Homo sapiens: one gene and its partners. The protein of the gene in region 3 binds, or shares a complex with, the protein of the main gene of each other region. Each region holds a gene or a part of one and is shown on either strand. Other genes may lie near its edges.

Region 1 (3,310 bases), on a different chromosome or scaffold from region 3:
GCTCAAGGGTCCCGGGAAGCTGTGCAAACCACCAGAGGTGAGGGGAGGGGCCCAGCCTCCAGTCCAGCTCTCACCCTTTTGTGCCCACTGCCCTTTGCCAAGGGCTGCACCAAGACCAGCCCCACCTACCTGTGTGCTCTTTTCCAGGCCACTCTTTCTGAGCTTTTCCCCACTGACTTAAAACCTACCCAAATCACTCCTGCCTTCAAAGACCTGGAAAAGAGTGCTGGATGGTGAGACCCACAGGTGGAGGGATGGCTGAGAGGGTGGACTTGCTATGTGGCTGAGGCCAGGTGGACCAGAGGAAGTGGTAGGTGGACAGAGCCAGGTGCTGGCTGGCACCACCAGGCAGTGGCCGGTGCAGGTGCTATGAGGAGGCGGGGATGCCGAGGGGTCCTGACCTCTGTCCACTGCCACCCGGAGGGCCTGGAGGACAGAGTAAGGAGATCTTGTCCTTGGGGCCAATCCCCATGCTGATTTCCTGCCAGGCACTGAGGGCTCCTGGGGCCCAAGACCCACAGAAGGCTCAGAGCACACTCAAGCACTGGCCTCGAGACCAGAGCCACAATGGGGACGGAGCCTAAAATAAGCATTTTATTTAATAAAAAATGGCTTCTACATCTCAAATCATGTCCATAACTTACAATCTAAATGAAAGCCAGTTACATAAATAAGAAGGTCATTCTGGAAGAATCAAATTCTAGAAAACAAAACAAGAAAAAACAAGTTTCAAACGATGTTGATGTGCCACCGAATTGAAGAAACTGCCCAGGCGTCCCCTCTGGGTAGTGCTGCTGAGTAGCCAGGACTGCTTGTGGGGGTGAGGCCACCCCAGACTCGGAGGCCCCTGCTGTCCTCATAGCACCCCTTGACTGGGCTGAGCTGTCCTACATCAGAGCTCCTGCCCCCTGGCCCGGGCACCTTCTTACCTCACGGACCCCGCCCAGCTGCTCAGCCAGCCCCCTGGCACCCTCCCATGGGGGCTCTCCCTCCATCCCTCGGCACTCTGCTGCTCAGCCCTCCTAGCCCAGGCCACCTGTGCCCCTGCCTCAGTGGAAGGACACACAGCAGCATAACATCACCACCAAGCAGGCTGCAGGGGAGGGGTTTGCCTCTAGCACCCACTCCACTGCCAGAGAGCCCCACCTCTGCCTCCGCCCCACCCTATGCAGTCCTGTGATGCTCACACTCATCGTCTAAGGAGAGAGTGGGCCCCATTTTTGGATGAGGAAACAGGCTAAGCCTGATTAGGTGGCTGGCCCAAGGTCACTGCTGATGACCCTACAGAACTTGCCAAAAACCCCGAGGGTCTGACTCAGAGCCCCGCGCCCAAAATGGGCCCCATGTAGCCCAGGCCACCCTGAGAGGAACTGTGGGGTCCCTGAGGCCCCCTATGCTGTTGTCAGCAGAAACCCCCACTCCAGCCCCAACAGGAGAACAGGTGCTTGCCCCTGGAGGGATGGACAGATGGATGGATGGACGGACGGATGGGAGAGTGGGGAGGACCCCAGGCCTGGCCTGAGGGACCTCCTGCAACAGAGTCTTGGCAGGGCCCATCTGCCACAGCCGCAGCCTCCAGGCTAGGGCTCTGGGAGATGCAGGGCTGGATGTGGCATTCCCTGTGGGGAACCTGGGCTGAGAGATGGTTACAAAGACACAAGGCAGGCCTATTTCCTGGGAACCCTTAAGAAAGAGGTAGCACATGGGGCAGTGGGAGGTGTCCCGGGACAGTGACCTGCCAGTGAATCCCAATGGGGCCCTCAGGACAGCTGTGTGCTGGTGAAGGCCCCAGCAGAACCAGCGCTTTGGAATTCCCAGCTAAGCGGCTGCCAACAGCTTTGCTTTCTCATGAGCCAAGCACACAAAAGCCCGGATGGCTGCTCTGCGGGCTCTTGCCCAGCGCCTGACACGAAGGCTGTGGGACAGGAGGCTCCAGGTGGCCTTCGAGGGCAGCACCAGGGAGTCTGTGTGTGACATGTGTCACACGCGATGCCCAGCCCAAGTGTGGTCAGCAGAGGGTGAATACCAGCTCTTTCTGAAGGGATCGCAGGGGCTTAATGAAATTAGCTGCCTCAAAATGCCCCATTGTGGCCCTGCTGGCAGCCTAAGGACAGATGTGCTTGGGAAAAATGTGTTGGCTCCAATCTCAAGAACCCTGCTTCGGTCTGAAACCCAAGTAGAAGCCTCCGTTGAGGGAGGACAGAGCAGGGCATCAGGGTCGGGCTCTGAGGGGGCTGCTGCAGCCACCCCTGCAGAACCCCTGTAACTCACCCTAGGACAGGAGGGAAATAAGTGCGTCCAGAAACTTGCTCCGATCCTCAGCTTTCAGCTCAATTACTGAAGTAATGAAAGAAAAACAGCCGTGAGAAGGGAGGAGTGGGAACACAAGACAGGGCACAGAACTCCCCTCCGCTGCCTGCCCTCCACTGCATTCCAAAGTGCGCGGCTCCTCCCGGCCTGTGGTATTCTGCACTCAGTGGTTGTGTCTGTCTCACTGTACTTCATCTTCACAACTGCTGTCTGCACTGCTAGAGAGGTCAGGGTTGGGGCCTGCAGGGAGAACTCCCCCCCGGGAAGACAATAGAGGTGACACAGGGAAGGGCCCTACAGACCTGGACAAACACGGGCCTGCCCACCCCAGCTGGCATGAACCCCCGTCCCCAGAGTGGGTTGTGGAAGTCCTTGGGTGGGGCAGGTCACTTTTGGCCGCACTCTGGCCAATTCCTCGGCTTCAGTGTTCTCTTCCGCACAAGGGGACATGGTGCAAACTGCCCATATCTCACAGGGCCCTCAGGCTCAGCTGAGCACCCAGACCCTCACCACAAAGCAAAACCAGGCCCCAGGATGGGGCTGGCCTGGCCCTGGGAGCCATCTATGCTGCCAGCCACAGCCCCGAGAGCCCCAGACCCAGCCCACGCAGGTGGGCACTAGACATGGCCCACTCTGCACCCTCACCCCTGGCTCTCCACCCTCAGGGAAACCAAGCAGTTCCCAGCCCGAGTCCTCCCTGTATACTGAAGGCCAGATATTCTGCAGGCCAGTGGGTGTCCATCCACCTCTCCCACATCACAGGCACAAAAGAGTTAGCAGGGGCTGCTGTGCGGGGTGAACCAATGCCACACAGTGCCACAGCCATGGCTGGGTCTGGCTCAAGGAAGGCAGCTCTGAGATGGCTGACGCCACTTCAACAAAGGCTGGATCTCCCATGACAGTGTCTATCATTGTTGAGGAATCCGTGGTGATGAGGCAAGAAAATATCCTTTCTCAGAGGTGCAGGAAGTACTGAGGGTGTTATGAGCTGAACGGTCTC
Region 2 (7,568 bases), on a different chromosome or scaffold from region 3:
TCCCAGCTACTAGGGAAGCTGAGGCAGGAGAATTGCTTAACCCAGAAGGCGGAGGTTGCAGTGAGCCGAGATCACACCATTGCACTCCAGCCTGGGCCACAGGAGCGAAACTCCCATCTCAAAACAATAAAAAAAAGAGAAAAGCCTGTGTGGTCCTTGGGCCTCTCAGATCCACTGTCAGCCTTCCTCTGTGCCGCTGAGTCGGAGGCCAGCCTCTGCAGGCTGACTAAGTGTTCCAGGCTGCTGGATCACCTTGAGTATCAGGTGGGTTTGTCAGTGGAAGGCACTAGTGAGACAAAAGGTGCTCCACCAAATTAAGACCTACAAGACAGTGATTCTACAACTTTTTTTTTTTTTTGAGGCGGAGTCTCTCTCTGTCGCCCAGGCTGTAGTGCAGTGACCCGATCTTGGCTCACTGCAACCTCCGCCTCCCAGATTCAAGCCATTCTCCTGCCTCAGCCTTCCGAGTAGCTGGGACTACAGGCACATCCCACCACGCCTGGCTAATTTTTTGTATTTTTAGTAGATACGGGGTTTCACCATGTTAGCCAGGATGGTCTCAATCTCAGGACCCTGTAATCCGCCCGCCTCAGCCTCCCAAAGTGGGGGGATTACAGGCGTGAGCCACCACTCCTGGCCTGATTCTACAACTTCTAAGACCAGCCCCTAGCCCCACAAAGTGATAACCCAACACTTAACTTAAAATTTGAGTAAAACAGAGAGCTAAACTAAGTGTCAGAGTCAGGTCCAAAATCCAGCTTGGCCGCACCTGTTTGCACAGTCTCTCTGTTCTCTAGGCCTGTGTCCTGATATGTACAATGACCTCTAAAGTTCCTAGTTCTCAGGCCACATTTTAGCATTTACACACTTCTGCATTCAAGCATCTCTACTGAGCTGCAGACTGCTGCCTAACTTTTTAAATGAGGTAACTGCTCTGAAGTTGAAAAAACAATTGACTAGAAACTGGAAAACCTGTGTTCAAGTTGAAGCTCTACCTCCAATATGCTGTAAATTCAGACGAGTTCCTTAACTTGACCCATAATTTGTGTCAGCTCAGTTTCTTCATTTGTAAGACAATCTAATTGTCTGGCTAGGTGCTCTTTAGTGTTCAAAACAAAACTCATTACCTTTCCCAACACACTCTATCTCCTGAACTCTGATGTTGTTTACCCAGTTTCCTAAGGATCCTCCAAGATCCCAATTCCTCCCTCTTATTCATTATGGACCCCATCTCTGCCCCTGCTCTAATAGCTACAAGTCATGTTTGCTTCATGTCTCTAAAACCCAAACACTGATCTCAGTGCCACTGACCTGACACAGTTCAGACCACACACCTCTCACCTGCTCTATCAGCCACCCAGTAGCCATCTCCCTGTCCCATTCTTTCCTCTCTTCAATCCATTCCCCATATTGCTGCCGCAGTTACCTTCAAAACACAAAAATTACCCTATCACTTCCTTGTCTAAAATCCTCTACCAGCTCCCAGCATGCCTTATAAGTGAACAACAAATTCATGTAGGCTGTGAGCCACCTTCCTAGACTCCCCACAGGCCCTATTGGTCACCCTCTCCAGTGTGACCACGTGACTTTGTGCTGCAGCATCCTTTGGCTGGGATGCCTCGCTTCCTTCTCAGATCAGTAACCTCATCCTTGAGGATGGAAAGGCTCATATATCACCTCTTCTACCCCAGCTCATACTGGTGTTTCTCCTTCGTGCTCCTTGCTATACCTCCTTAGTATCACTTAGCGTGGTGAATTCTATTATCTGTTTTTGTGCCCATCTTCCAGCAGAATGTGTCCTGACATCCACATAATGCCTGCTCTATGACGTAAGTGAAATATACAATTTAGAGTGCAGGCTCTGGAGCCAGAGTGCCAGGGTTCAAATCCTAGCTTTCTTGCTGTGTCACCTTAGGCAATATACTTAAATCTCCCCAATCCTATGCATATATAGCTGAAAAAAGTAGAAAACAATAGTTTAAACATCAAAAAGTTATTTTTGTTTTGTTTGGGACAGGGTCTCCCTGTCACTCAGGCTGGAATGCAGTGGCAGGATCAAGCGATCCTCCCGCCTCAGCCTCCCAAAGTGCTGGGATTACAGGCAGGAGCCATGGTACCGGGCCCTCAAAGGGTTATTAGAAAGACAAAAGATAATGTACATGAAGTGCTTAGCACTCTCCCTGGGGTAGCAGTGATAGAAAAATACAAATAATCATAATATTAATAGTAACAGCAGCAGCAGGAGAAAAGTAATATTAATAGCTAACACTGACTCAGCCCTTACTGTATGTGAGGCATATGCAGAGACCCTTACACATGCCACTCATTTTGCGTCCACTACATCATGCGTTGGGTACTATTATTGTCACCATCCCCATTTTTGCGTATGAGAAAACTGAGAGCACAGAAAGCTTGAGTAACTGCCCCAAAGTCACACTACAGAACCAGAATCTCAGCCAGGTTCCAGAGGCCTAGCTTTTACTGACCACGATTAGATGCCTGAGTGAGCAAGAAATGCTAAATTATCAGGCAACCTGTAAATATTTTAAGGGACCGGAACAAATCTGTCCAAGGAAAACTGCTAAAATGCAAAATTTGCTCAGATGAGGAAATTCACCAAATCGCTGGGTAGCGTAAGCATGAATGCTTTCTCTTTCCTCCTGAATTTTGTTTTGCTGCTTCCCAAGTTTTCCGGAGCTCGGAGGGAACAAGGTGCGAAAGTGAACCCTGACGGGGAGCCGCCCCGCCCCAGAGCCCAGGGCCCAACGCCGGCATGCCCCGTCCAAGTCTACCCGCCCCTCACGTTGAAGGCAGGCAGTTGCCCTTCGGGCGCGCGATGCAGCTCGCGGATCAGTTCCATGGCTTTTTCGCAGAACATGGCGGACGCTTCCCACTCCCGCGGCCTTGCCAACCACCAGCTCTCACGCCAAAATGGTATCTGGGCTCTCGGCGCCTCACTCCTTTCGTTCTAGTCCTACAGCGCCAGGCTCTCGCCTCGGCCTCCGCTCCGCGCTTTGGCGCCGAACAAAGCTAGCCAATAGGAACGCGCCTACGGCGCCCGAAAAGGGACATCCACCGCTCAGCCGCATTCCAAGAGGGGCGGAGTGGGAGGGGTCTTTCCAAGGTGAGGTCCCCGCCCCGGAGATGGCAGAACCCCTCGGCTGAGCAGAGACGGCTTTTCCAGTTCTCAGGCAGTGGGCCGGGGGACTCTACGGGCAGCAGAGCTGGAAATAAATGCACGCCCCGCAGCTTCCTTGTCATTTTCCTTTTGATTCATTCATTCTCGTTTAGGTTCAAGAAAAGAGCACTTTGAGGTTAAGAGGAAAGGCCCAAAAACTTGGTGTGCATTGGTAGGACGCAAGGGTTTCAGTTTTGCAGTGCGGGTTTTCTGTTTGATATTAAAATGAAACTCTCTTTTATTGGGTACCTAGTGCTGGTAGGGACTGCAGTGTGTATTTCATTCCCACAATTATCTCTGAAGTGTTTTAAGACCCGGGATTAATAAGGAAACAGAAGTTAGGTAACTTGCCCAAGGTCACACAGCTCCAGAGTGATTAGACTGTTATTTAGGCTTTCCATTTCCAACACCACAGTACCACCCTTTGATTTTAAAATAGTCTTTTAAAAATATTTGTAATATCTGCCCTAGATTAATACGAATTCACTAGGAATTTTCTTGGCTAGATGGTTATGGAATATTTCTTAAGCATATGGAAGATGGGAATCACTGCTAAAGAATTGTTTTATTAGGCAATTTTTCAAAAAGCAATGTTAATTTCTAACAAGCAATCTTGGATTTTTTTTTTTTTGAGATGGAGTCTCGCTCTGTCGCCCAGGCTGGAGTGCAGTGGCGCGAACTCGGCTCACTGTAAGCTCCGCCTCCCGGGTTCACGCCATTCTCCTGCCTCAGCCTCCCGAGTAGCTGGGACTACAGGCGCCCGCCACCACGCCCAGCTAATTTTTTGAATTTTTTAAGTATAGACGGGGTTTCACCGTGTTAGCCAGGACGGTCTCAATTTCCTGACCTCGTGATCCGCCCACCTCGGCCTCCCAAAGTGCTGGGATTACAGGCATGAGCCACCGCAACCGGCGCAATCTTGGATTAATTCTAGCTAACCCTAGAAACTATGTTGATCTTTTGCAAATATACAGTAGATATGTCATCTAAGGAATGGGCATGGGAATGGCCTACTCAGGCTTATGTTGAATAATGACATTGCCTTTTTTTTTTGGAGACAGGGTCTTAACTCCCGTTACCCAGGTGGAGTGCAGTGGCGCCATCTCAGCTCACTGCAGCCTCCACTTCCCGGGCTGAGGTAATTTTCCCCCCTCAGCCCTCTGAGTAGCTGGGACTACAGGCTCAGGCCACCACACCTGGCTATTTTGTATTTTAAGTAGAGACAGGGTTTCACCATGTTGGCCAGTCTGGTCGACAACTCTTGAGCTCAAGGGATCCGTCCGCCTGGGCCTCCCAAAGTGCTGGAATTACAGCGTGAGCCACCGCACCCAGCAAACATTGCCTTTTTGAAACCGCCTTTGAAAAAATTATAATAGAGAAAATTATTACAGTGAAAGAGATCTGACCTAACTGGCTCCATCTTGCTTCTAACCGCCAAGCCATCCTTGTTCATTCCTGGGCTTAGGGCGAATTAACTTGGGGAGAAACTTAGTTTATAGTTTAATTTTGAAACAAATACTTAGCCCTTTACCAAAGCGAAACCCTTTTTGTCTGGGGACTAGATTGCCTTTGCAGGAGTAACAGAGTAGCCACAAGACTAGAAATTTACGAGTCTCGCAGCGGGAGGCTACAAGATTCTAAAACCTCCCCAAGTGCTCCTAGGGATAGCAGCACTATTATAAAACCTAAGACCAGTGCTTGAGATATTTTGTAGACCCTGCACTTGATGGGATCAGCTGGCACCACCCAGATCGATAAACTGGCTCATCTGGTCTTGTGGTCCCCACCCAAGAACTGACTCAGCCCAAGAGGACAGCTTTGACTCTCTATGATTTTATCTCTCATCCAACCAATCAGCACCCCTCACTTTGTGACCCCCTACCCACTAAATTATCCTTTAAAATCCCTATCTTGGAGTTTTCTAGGAGACTGATTTGAGCGATAATAAAACTCCAGTCTCCTGTACAGCTGGGTCTGCGTGAATTAAACTCTTTCTCAGCCAGGCCCAGTGGCTCACGCCTGTAATCCCAGCACACTGGGAGACTGAGGCGGGTGGATCACCTGAGGTCAGGAGTTCGAGACCAGTCTGGCCAACATGGTGAAACCCCATCTATACTAAAAATGCAAAAATTAGCCTGTCCGGGCATGGTGGCTCACACCTGTAATCCCAGCACTTTGGGAGGCCAAGGTGGATGACCTGAGGTCAGAAGTTCAAAACCAGCCTGGCCAACACAGCGAAACCCCATCTCTACTAAAAATACAAAAAAATTAGCTGAACATGGTGGCACACGCCTGTAATCCCAGCTACTCAGGAGGCTGAGGAAGGAGAATTGCTTGAACCCAGGAGGTGGAGGTTGCAGTGGGCCGAGATCTCACCACTGCACTCCAGCCTGGGTGACAGAGTGAGACTCTGTCTCAAAAAAAAAAAAAAAAAAATTAGCTGGGCCTGGTGGCACATGCCTGTAATCCCAGCTACTTGGGAGGCTGAGGCAGGAGAATCACTTGAACACTGGAGGCGGAGGTTGCAATGAGCTGAGATTGTGCCATTGAGCTCCAGCCTGAGCGACAGAGCAAGACTCTGTCTCAAAAAACAAACAAACAAACAAACAAACAAAAAACCAAAAAACTCTTTCTCTATTGCAACTCCCCTGTCTTGATAAATCAGCTCTGTCTGGGCAGTGGACAAGGAGAATCCCTTGGGCAATTATATTTTCATCTCTACAGTAAGGAATAGTTTATCTAGGTGTTTTTCCCAAATACACAACTCTAGACTGGACTATGCTGCAGGACTGAATCAAAGACCAGCATGCACTACCCTCCTCAGCCATAGGCCTTTTTAATTTCAGCCCAGAGGCAAAGTTCATTAATGACCCCAAGACTCACTTCCTTAACAGTAGAATGAGAACAGTGGAACCACCTCTAAGGAGTTAAGATGATTCAGTCATACCTTCTGCAAATATTTATGAAATGCCTAGTGTTGAAGTTAAAACCAAACTCTAAAATATTTAAAGAGATTTATTCTGAGCCAATGAGTGACCATGGCCCAGGAACAGCCTCAAGAGGTCCTGAGAAAGCGTGCCTGAGGCAGTGCAGTTACAGGTTACAGGTTGGTTTTATGTATTTTAGGGAGACAGGAATTATAGGTAAAATCATAAATCAACACATGGAAGGTGTACTTTTGTTCAGCCTAAAAAGGTGGGATATCTTGAAGCAGGGAGCTTACAGATTTTCTGATTAGCAATTGGTTGAGTCAAGTTTTGTCTAAAGACTGTCAATAGAAGGAAATTATTGAGTTAAGGGGGAGGTTGTGGAGACCAAGTTTCTTGTTATGTGGATGAAGCCTCATAGGCAGCAGCCTTCTGAAAGAATTGATGGTAAATGTCTCTTTTTGGATCTTAAAAGGTGTGTTAAACTCTTGTTTAACCTCTCCTAGATTCAGGAAAGACCTGGCTGCATTAACGGAGATTCTTAACAGATGCAAATTCCCCACACAAAAGATGGCTTTCCAGGGCCATTTCAAAATATTTCAAAGAAATATATTTTGGGGTAAAACATCTTGATTTCCTTCAGAGTCTGCTATCTGTCATGTGATGCTACATCAGTCAGGTTGGAGTTTGGACCTTATTGCCACAAAGAGTGTGTTTGTGAGTCTTAGGATCTTTATTTTAATGTTAATGCTGGCCAGTTGCACCTATACTCCAAAAGGGAGGGGGTACAACAAGGTGCATCCCATCTTGCTTCTTGTCATAGCCGATAATTCCATTTTTGTTTTTTTTCAGGTTTCCCTGGGGTCCCCTTGGCCCAGAAGGGGTCCATCCAGTCAGCAGGGGATGGAGGGTTTGGGATTTTATTTTTGGTTTACACTAGTATTAGCCTGGCATTGACCTAGATACTGAAAATAAAGCAGTAAACAAAGTCCTTTCTACAGAGTCTACATTCCAGTGTGGGAAAACGCAATACACAGATACACTGATAAGAAATATATTGGTGAAAAAGCACTAAGAATAACCCAAAGAAGATGAATAGAGTGAAGGTGAAAGAGTCAGGGTTTTGAGTTCAAGTGTTCAGAGAAGGCACAGACCTGAACAGGGAGAAAATAACCCAAGTGGTTATGGGCCTTAGGGAAGGCAGGAAATTCCAGGCAGAGGAATCAAGCTGCAAAGGCCCCAGGAAGGTCGGCTGAGGATGAGCAAAGAGGCAGTGATGCTGGAGCAGGTTGATGATAGGAGAGGCCAGCAGTCAGGTCAGATGTTGGGAGCTGAAAAGGCCAAAGGGATTGTGACCAACTCAGCATTCCACTGGAGGCTATATTATCAAACAGCAAACTGTTTATCAAGAATGCAGGATGTGAGCAAACTCACACTGTGCCTGCCACCAAAAGGTTGGCTGA
Region 3 (7,121 bases):
GGTAACCAAGTATTATTCCTTCCATCATTTATTTAGGAAAAAGTTTTATGTATTAGGGTAAAGTGGTAGAAGTTAACCTAGAATCTAATAATCTCCAATCACCCATTCCTGATCTAATAGTAGCCATGAGAAAAAATCTCTAGAAAGAATCATACCTCTCAAAAAATAAAAAATAAAACAAAGGCTGGGTGCAGTGGCTCACACCTGTAATCTCAGCACTTCCGGAAGTTGAGGTGGGCAGATCGCTTGAGCCTAGGCATATCGCTTGCAGCCTGGGCAACGTGGCGAAGCCGTCTCTACCAAAAAATACAAAAAGTAGCCGGGCATAGTGACATACACCTGAGCCCAGGAGGTTAAGCCTACATTGAGCCGTGATTGTACCAGTGTACTCTAGCCAGGGTGACAGAGTAAGACCCTATCTCAAAAAAAGAAGTGCCATAAAAAAGAAAGGCTCTAGCCCTTTACCAATGAGGTGATATGCCCAGGCTATGCCTGTCATCAAATCCATAAGCATACTGATGATGGCCATGAGAAAGTCCAGCACACAAACCATGCCCCAGACTGCATCTGTGCATACACAGAGTAAAAGCCCTGCTGCTATACTATAAAATGGCACCTGAAAATAATCTCTACGGTATGTTTGAAAATTGGCAGGTTTTTTTTTTTTTTTTTTTTTTGAGACAGTCTCACTCTATTGCTGAGGCTGGAGTGCAGTGGCGCGATCTTGGCTCACTGCAACCTCTGCCGCCTGGGTTTAAGCGATTCTCCTGCCTCAACCTCCCGAGTAGCTGGGATTACAGGCGCATGCCATCAAGCCCAGCTAATTTTTTGTTATCTTTACTAGAGACGGGGTTTCACCATCTTGGCTAGGCTGGTCTTGAACTCCTGACCTCATGATCCACCCACATTGGCCTCCCAAAGTGCTGGGATTACAGGTGTGAGCCACCGCGCCCGGCCAGCATAGTATTTTTATTTATAACGTGAAAAAAATGAAAACAGATACTTCACTACAAATATTGAACCCAAGTTAGAAAATTTTTATGCAGCCAAACCATGACTTTAAGCTCTATTTACACTGATGGCGGCCAACTGAGATGCAGACCACACCCATGTGGCGTGCAGCAAGCAGGACATGCAGGGAGCCTTCCTTGCTCACAAGGCTTCAGAGCAAGCGCACGGTCTTCCCAGTCACTGTCAGGAAATCATCATCTGCCAGGGCACGCAGTGCTTCTTCAAACATATCTTTAGTAATTGCCTGTGGGGAAGAGAAAGAAAATAAATATTGTACACGTCAAGTCCCTCCTTTACCTGTTAGAAACACAATAATTATAATGTTAAAGTACCACCCAGAATCTTTCTCTTTTTGGTGGCTGTACACATGCCTTATGCTCTAAATCAGGAGTGGAGTAGCCAGATGGTCCATGTGGTAGACTTGGCATCTGTATAGTCCACGTTGTAACTATCAACTCTGCCCTCTCAGTCACAACACAGCGATGGAAAGTGGACCAGCACTGAAAGACTGCATAGTTCTTTTCACTAAACAACTACCTTACTTATTTACAAAAGGACACCCAAATATTTCATACCTAAAGCAAACTTATAACAACTATGAAAGGGGCATAACAATTTTTTCTTTTTTTTTTTTTTTGAGATGGAGTTCCGCTCTGGTGCCCAGGCTGGAGAGCAATGGTGGGATCTCAGCTTACTGCAACCTCCGCCTCCCAGGTTCAAGCAATTCTCCTGCCTAAGCCTCCTGAGTAGCTAGGATTTCAGGTGCTTATCACCACATCCAGCTAATTTTTGTATTTTTAATAGAGACAGGGTTTCACCATATTGGTCAGGCTGGTTTCAAACTCCTGGCTGCAAGTGATCTGCCCACCTCAGCGTCCCAAATGAGATTACAGGCGTGAGCTACTGCACCCAGCCAAAAATTTTAATTGTGATTATTTCTTGATGATGGCTTATGGTTCATCTTCCTTTTCTTCATTCTTCTCTATATTTATTATTTAATAAATAAAGGAAAAAAACCCAAAAGCAATATTAAGGAAAAAGAGAAAGCTCTATCAAACAAAAAATACATATAAACACTTACTATGTCAGATTGTCCCCGAATATCTTCAAAAAGTTGCTGGTATTTTAGAGCTGGTGTTTTGCCCTTAGATAAAATAAGCTTTTTCAATGCTTCAGCTAATTCTTCTTTCCGTTTACGAGAGGTGGCACTCATCCCTGATTTAAAAAGAAATCAATGAAAACATTTTTGCTATTATGAAATGAAATGCTTCAAATTCTCAAAAATATTCCTTTAGTAGTATCACCTAGAAAGATAAGGCGACAGGGGCTGAGTACATTTGAAGGGAATGAGTTTTTAATTATTTGGAAATTTCTGTAAGCCACTAGCTGCTGCTTTCCTTAACAGTCTACACATCTGTGCAGCAAGCAGCTGCTGCTAAGAAACAAACAACTTCTCTAAAATGGGTTAACAAAACTTCCCAGACAGTCAAGGAGACAGAATCTCCTTAAAACTATACACAAAACTGGAATTGAACAATGAGAACACACGGACACAGGAAGGGGAACATCACACACCAGGGCCTGTTGTGGGGTGGGGGGAGGGGGGAGGGATAGCATTTGGAGATACACGTAATGTTAAATGACGAGTTACTGGGTACAGCACACCAACATGGCACATGCGTACATATGTAACTAAACTGCACGTTGTGCACATGTACCCTAAAACTTAAAGTATAAAAAAAAAAAACAAAAAAAAACTATACACAAAACTGTGTGTGTTAATCAATATTTTTATCAAGATAAGATTAAAGGGCAACTTTCATCAGATTCTCAAAGGGGTCCTAATCCAAAAAAGGTTAAGAACTTCTGTTTCAAATGATTTAACTGTTAGCTTAAATCTGACATATAAACTACATGCATATTGAAATAATTTTCAAAAGCTTTTCTGTTCACTGAAAATAACGAACCCGTAGTAAGAATAGATATGTCCACGATGCCAGTCCGGGGATCAGTTGCAGACTGCTTCAGAGCTTCCCGATGGAGGCGTTTGGCCTCTTCCACATCAATGGCTTCAACTTTGTTAGACAATCTTACTTTAGCATGGGCTTCTGCTAAGCGGATTAATGACTCTAGCTGTCGAGGGTATGCAGAAACCATTCCCCGGCTACTGCCAATCTTCCTCATGTCTACATAAGCCTATTGTAGGTAGAAAAACAAAAGCAAAAGCAAACCTCCTTGGTGACAACTTTAGTTTTGTGGGTGAATTTTGAACACTTAGGCTTCCATTAAGTAAACGGAACTCAGATATGGTCCTGGGCCCCGGAGCTCATCAAGTGGTAGAGACTACACAGACAGACCACAGAAATCGCAGGTGAAGACATCAACGTGCAGCGTGCAGTGGTGGGTGAACATATTCCAACTGGGAGATGCTTGGGAAGAATTCTTGGAGAGGGTGGCATCTAACGTAGCTCTGAAGAACAGAGACGGGCATGGCGTGGCAGAGGGAAGGAATGTGGCATGTGGGGAGAGGAGAAGGCTGTGAGCACTCATAGGGAGAATCAGGCCTGTCTGGGAAAAGTGCTCACATGGGGCACAATGGGGCTCATAAGGATTGCTGGGAGAATGCTGCAAAGGTAAGTTGTATCAATTTCACATACAGATGACACAGTCTTATTTCTTCATTAACAACCCCCAAGACTATGACACACAAAAAAATTACATAATGTCTGTAACTTTCATCTTAGAATTTTTAGGAGCTCAGTTAGGATGCAAAGCTCATCAAAGCACCAGGAACCTTCTTAATATCACAATGCTTGAATAACCTAAATGTGCCATCATGCACTTCAGCTCATGTACCAGGATGCTGAAAAGTGAACCTAAAAGACAGCTCATTCTGTTTTTTACAAGCAAAAGGAAGCTTACAGAAACTGGATGACTTTTTCAGTTTCCAAATTACTGTGTAGTGTTGCCTCTATTTGAAACCAGGTCTTTGATCTTAAATTCACTATGCTTGTAAGTACTTAAACATATAAAGTGTGTGTACTACCTACATAAATGAACTATTTCCCCCTTTTGCAACATTTGGAAAGATCAATTTTGCAATATGGGAGGAAGTAATAAACAGTTATAAAAAATAGTATATTGCTAGGCGCGGTGGCTCACGCCTGTAATCCCAGCACTTTGGGAGGCCGAGGCAGGCGGATCACGAGGTCAGGAGATCGAGACCATCCTAACACAGTGAAACCCCGTCTCTACTAAAAATACAAAAAATTAGCCAGGCGTGGTGGTGGGTGCCTGTAATCCCAGCTACTCAGGAGGCTGAGGCAGGAGAATGGCGTGAATCCGGGAGGTGGAGCTTGCAGTGAGCCGAGATCGCGCCACTGCAGTCCAGCCTGGGGGACACAGCGAGACTCCGTCTCACAAAAAAAAAAAAAAGAAAAGTTTATTATTCTTAGGCCCAGCATGGTGGCTTGCGCCTGCAATCCTAACACTTTGGGAGGCAGAGGCTGGCGCATCACTTGAGGTCAGGATTTCAAGACCAGCCTGGCCAACACGGTGAAACTCTGTCTCTACTAAAAATACAAAAATTAGCCGGAGTGGTTGTGGGCACCTGTAATCCCAGCTAATAGGGAGGCTGAAGCAGGAGAATCGCTTGAACCCAGAAGCACAGGCCACAGGCTGCAGTAAGCCGAGATCAAGCCACTGCACTCCAGCCTGGGCAAGAGAGCCAGGCTCTGTCTCAAAACAAGGAAGAGAACAGTATGTTATTCGTAACAAAATAATTAATATTTTAAAGGAGATGATTGGTCAGTTACATTAATGCTGTGGGCTACAGGCACAGTAAGCCTTTTTTCAGCAGGGTTACCTCGATGAGAGCCTGGCTGGCTTCCTCACTTAGCCGCGGCATGATGGTGCTGTGCGCGTAGGCAATGTAGTCCTTTAGCACCGCCATGTCCAGGAGCTCCTCCTCTGCCTGCTCCTCGCTCTGGTAGTACAGTGCGACCAGGTGGTGAGCCAGACGCCTGTCATAGGCTTCGTCCTGAGGGTCCAGCAAGAGGAAGATCAAATCAAACCTAAGAAAACAAAGTAAAAATACTGTTTTTCCAGCACCTTGTGAGGCCGAGGCAGGTGGATCACCTGAGGTTGGTAGTTTGAGACCAGCCTGGCCAACACGGTGAAACCTTGTCTCTACTAAAAATGCAACAATTAGCCAGGAGTGGTGGTGCCTGCCTGTAATCCCAGCTACTTGGGAGGCTGAAGCAGGAGAATCGCTTGAACCTGGAAGGCGAAGGTTGCGGTGAGCCAAGTTCGCGTCACTGCACTCCAGCCTGGCCGACAGAGGGAGACTCTGTCTCAAAAAAACAAACAAAAAAACCCAAAACAACAACAAAAAAACTGTTTTCCTAGTTGAGACACCAATACACCTACAAACGACGTACTAAAGACTGCTTGAGCACCACAGATGTGCAGTCAATGTGCACCCTGTGAGCGCCATCAGGGAGAAGCATCTTTGCCTGGTGTGGAAAGGGCCTTCGTGTCCATCCACTCACCCCACTCACCCTGTGCTGTCCCTAGTCCTTAGGTCGGCCCAGGGAACGGCTGGGGACCAATCAGCTGAGTCAAAGGAAGTCTTCCCTTAGGGAAACGTTACTATAATTTTGACGATGGAAAGTTTTTTTTTTTTTTTTTTTTTTGAGACAGAGTCTCACTCTGTAGCCCAAGCTAGAGTGAAGTGGTATGATCTCAGCTCACTGCAATCTCCACTCCCCCAGGCTCAAGCAATTCTTGTGCCTCCTCAGCCTCCCGAGTAGCTGGGATTACAGGCATGCGCCGCCACGCCGGGCTAATTTTTTGTATTTTAGTAGAGATGGGGTTTCATCAAGTTGCCCAGGGTGGCCTCAAACTCCTGAGCTCAGGCGATCCACCCACCTCAGCCTCCCAAAGTGCTGGAATTACAGGTGTGAGTCACTGTACCTGGCTGACAATGGAAAGATTTGAATGAAAACACATTCAACTGTTTTTTTGGGAAAAAAAACTTCTGTCAAAAAAAAAGAAAAAAAAGCAAGTAATTAAAACCTAAAATCCATTTATGAAAAATGTCCAATATTTGTAGTGGGGCCAAGAGTGAAGATTATGTGATTGCACTTTAATAAATCTAACTTTTCAGAGCCTCATCTACTGTACGGAATTGTTCTCTGTTGACTCTCAGCAGTGGCTTTAGGACTAAGAGTAGTGAGTGACAGCCATGTGTAAACGGCGTGGGAGGTAAACATCCCAACTGCTTAAAAAACAAATGAGAACACACATCATCCTTGTCGTGAAAACTCTTGACCAACCAAATTTGAAACATCTTGATAAGAGTGAAGAGTTTCCATTAGCAGTTGCTGAAATCTTAGTAGCTCCTTTTCAATCTCACCCTGAATATTCTACAAATGAACAAAATAAAAATCTGTTTTAATACCTTGATAATAAAGTATGAGGCAGCTGGATGTTTTCAATGGTTGTTTTTTTAGGATTCCACTGAGACTCAATGGGATTTGCTGCTGCCAGGACAGAGGTGCGCGCATTGAGCTGACAGATGATCCCAGCCTATCAGAGCAAAGAGTGCAGTTAGAAGCCTCTCCCTGACGCTGGCAATTAACAAGCACCGTCTTCGCCCGGCCACCTACTAAACCCATATTCCCTCCACTGAGTTTCTATTGCCTGAGCCATGTTGCCTTTACTGACTTCAGCAGTTCACCTGGATAAGCCCTGTCCTCAGATTCATGCCAAGGACTGAGTTTAGATGAATGTGTGCTATAACCACATCTTTCTCAGGAAGCAGGCACCTTGCAAGAGCTTTAGGACAAATTCAAGGCTAGTACAGCAATAAAGACAAAACGTGACACCCTGTAGAAGACATGTTGAGATTTAGCTGAAATATGATGTGGAAAGCACTTATCAATCTCCCCAAGTTAGAACCAAGGTAGCACAGCACAGTTCCACAGACCCTGTCTTTCAAGGGTCCACATATTTTAAACACGTCCATGTTCACGGTGGAGAAGGCGACTCACCTTTGCAATGGACAGAGTCTGCTGTTCCATGACTTCATGCAATACCGATCTTGTACT

What was found.
Region 1: MCM4 (region 3) and CDC45 share a complex: the UniProt entries of both Homo sapiens proteins name them as parts of the CMG helicase complex.
Region 2: MCM4 (region 3) and GINS1 share a complex: the UniProt entries of both Homo sapiens proteins name them as parts of the CMG helicase complex.

Annotation. Positions count from the first base shown.
Region 1 is NC_000022.11:19,517,871-19,521,180, reverse strand, and holds the end of CDC45 (cell division control protein 45 homolog), read right to left. Parts: intron 2,338-3,310; coding exon 2,273-2,337; 3' UTR 2,272-2,272; intron 701-2,271; 3' UTR 573-700; downstream 1-572. UniProt on the Homo sapiens protein: Required for initiation of chromosomal DNA replication. Core component of CDC45-MCM-GINS (CMG) helicase, the molecular machine that unwinds template DNA during replication, and around which the replisome is built.
Region 2 is NC_000020.11:25,403,131-25,410,698, reverse strand, and holds the start of GINS1 (DNA replication complex GINS protein PSF1), read right to left. Parts: upstream 3,027-7,568; 5' UTR 2,879-3,026; coding exon 2,804-2,878; intron 2,629-2,803; exon of another isoform or gene 2,404-2,628; intron 1-2,403. UniProt on the Homo sapiens protein: Required for correct functioning of the GINS complex, a complex that plays an essential role in the initiation of DNA replication, and progression of DNA replication forks.
Region 3 is NC_000008.11:47,970,820-47,977,940, reverse strand, and holds part of MCM4 (DNA replication licensing factor MCM4), read right to left. Parts: coding exon 7,065-7,121; intron 6,601-7,064; coding exon 6,473-6,600; intron 5,085-6,472; coding exon 4,877-5,084; intron 3,208-4,876; coding exon 2,979-3,207; intron 2,227-2,978; coding exon 2,093-2,226; intron 1,256-2,092; coding exon 1,163-1,255; 3' UTR 1-1,162. UniProt on the Homo sapiens protein: Acts as a component of the MCM2-7 complex (MCM complex) which is the replicative helicase essential for 'once per cell cycle' DNA replication initiation and elongation in eukaryotic cells.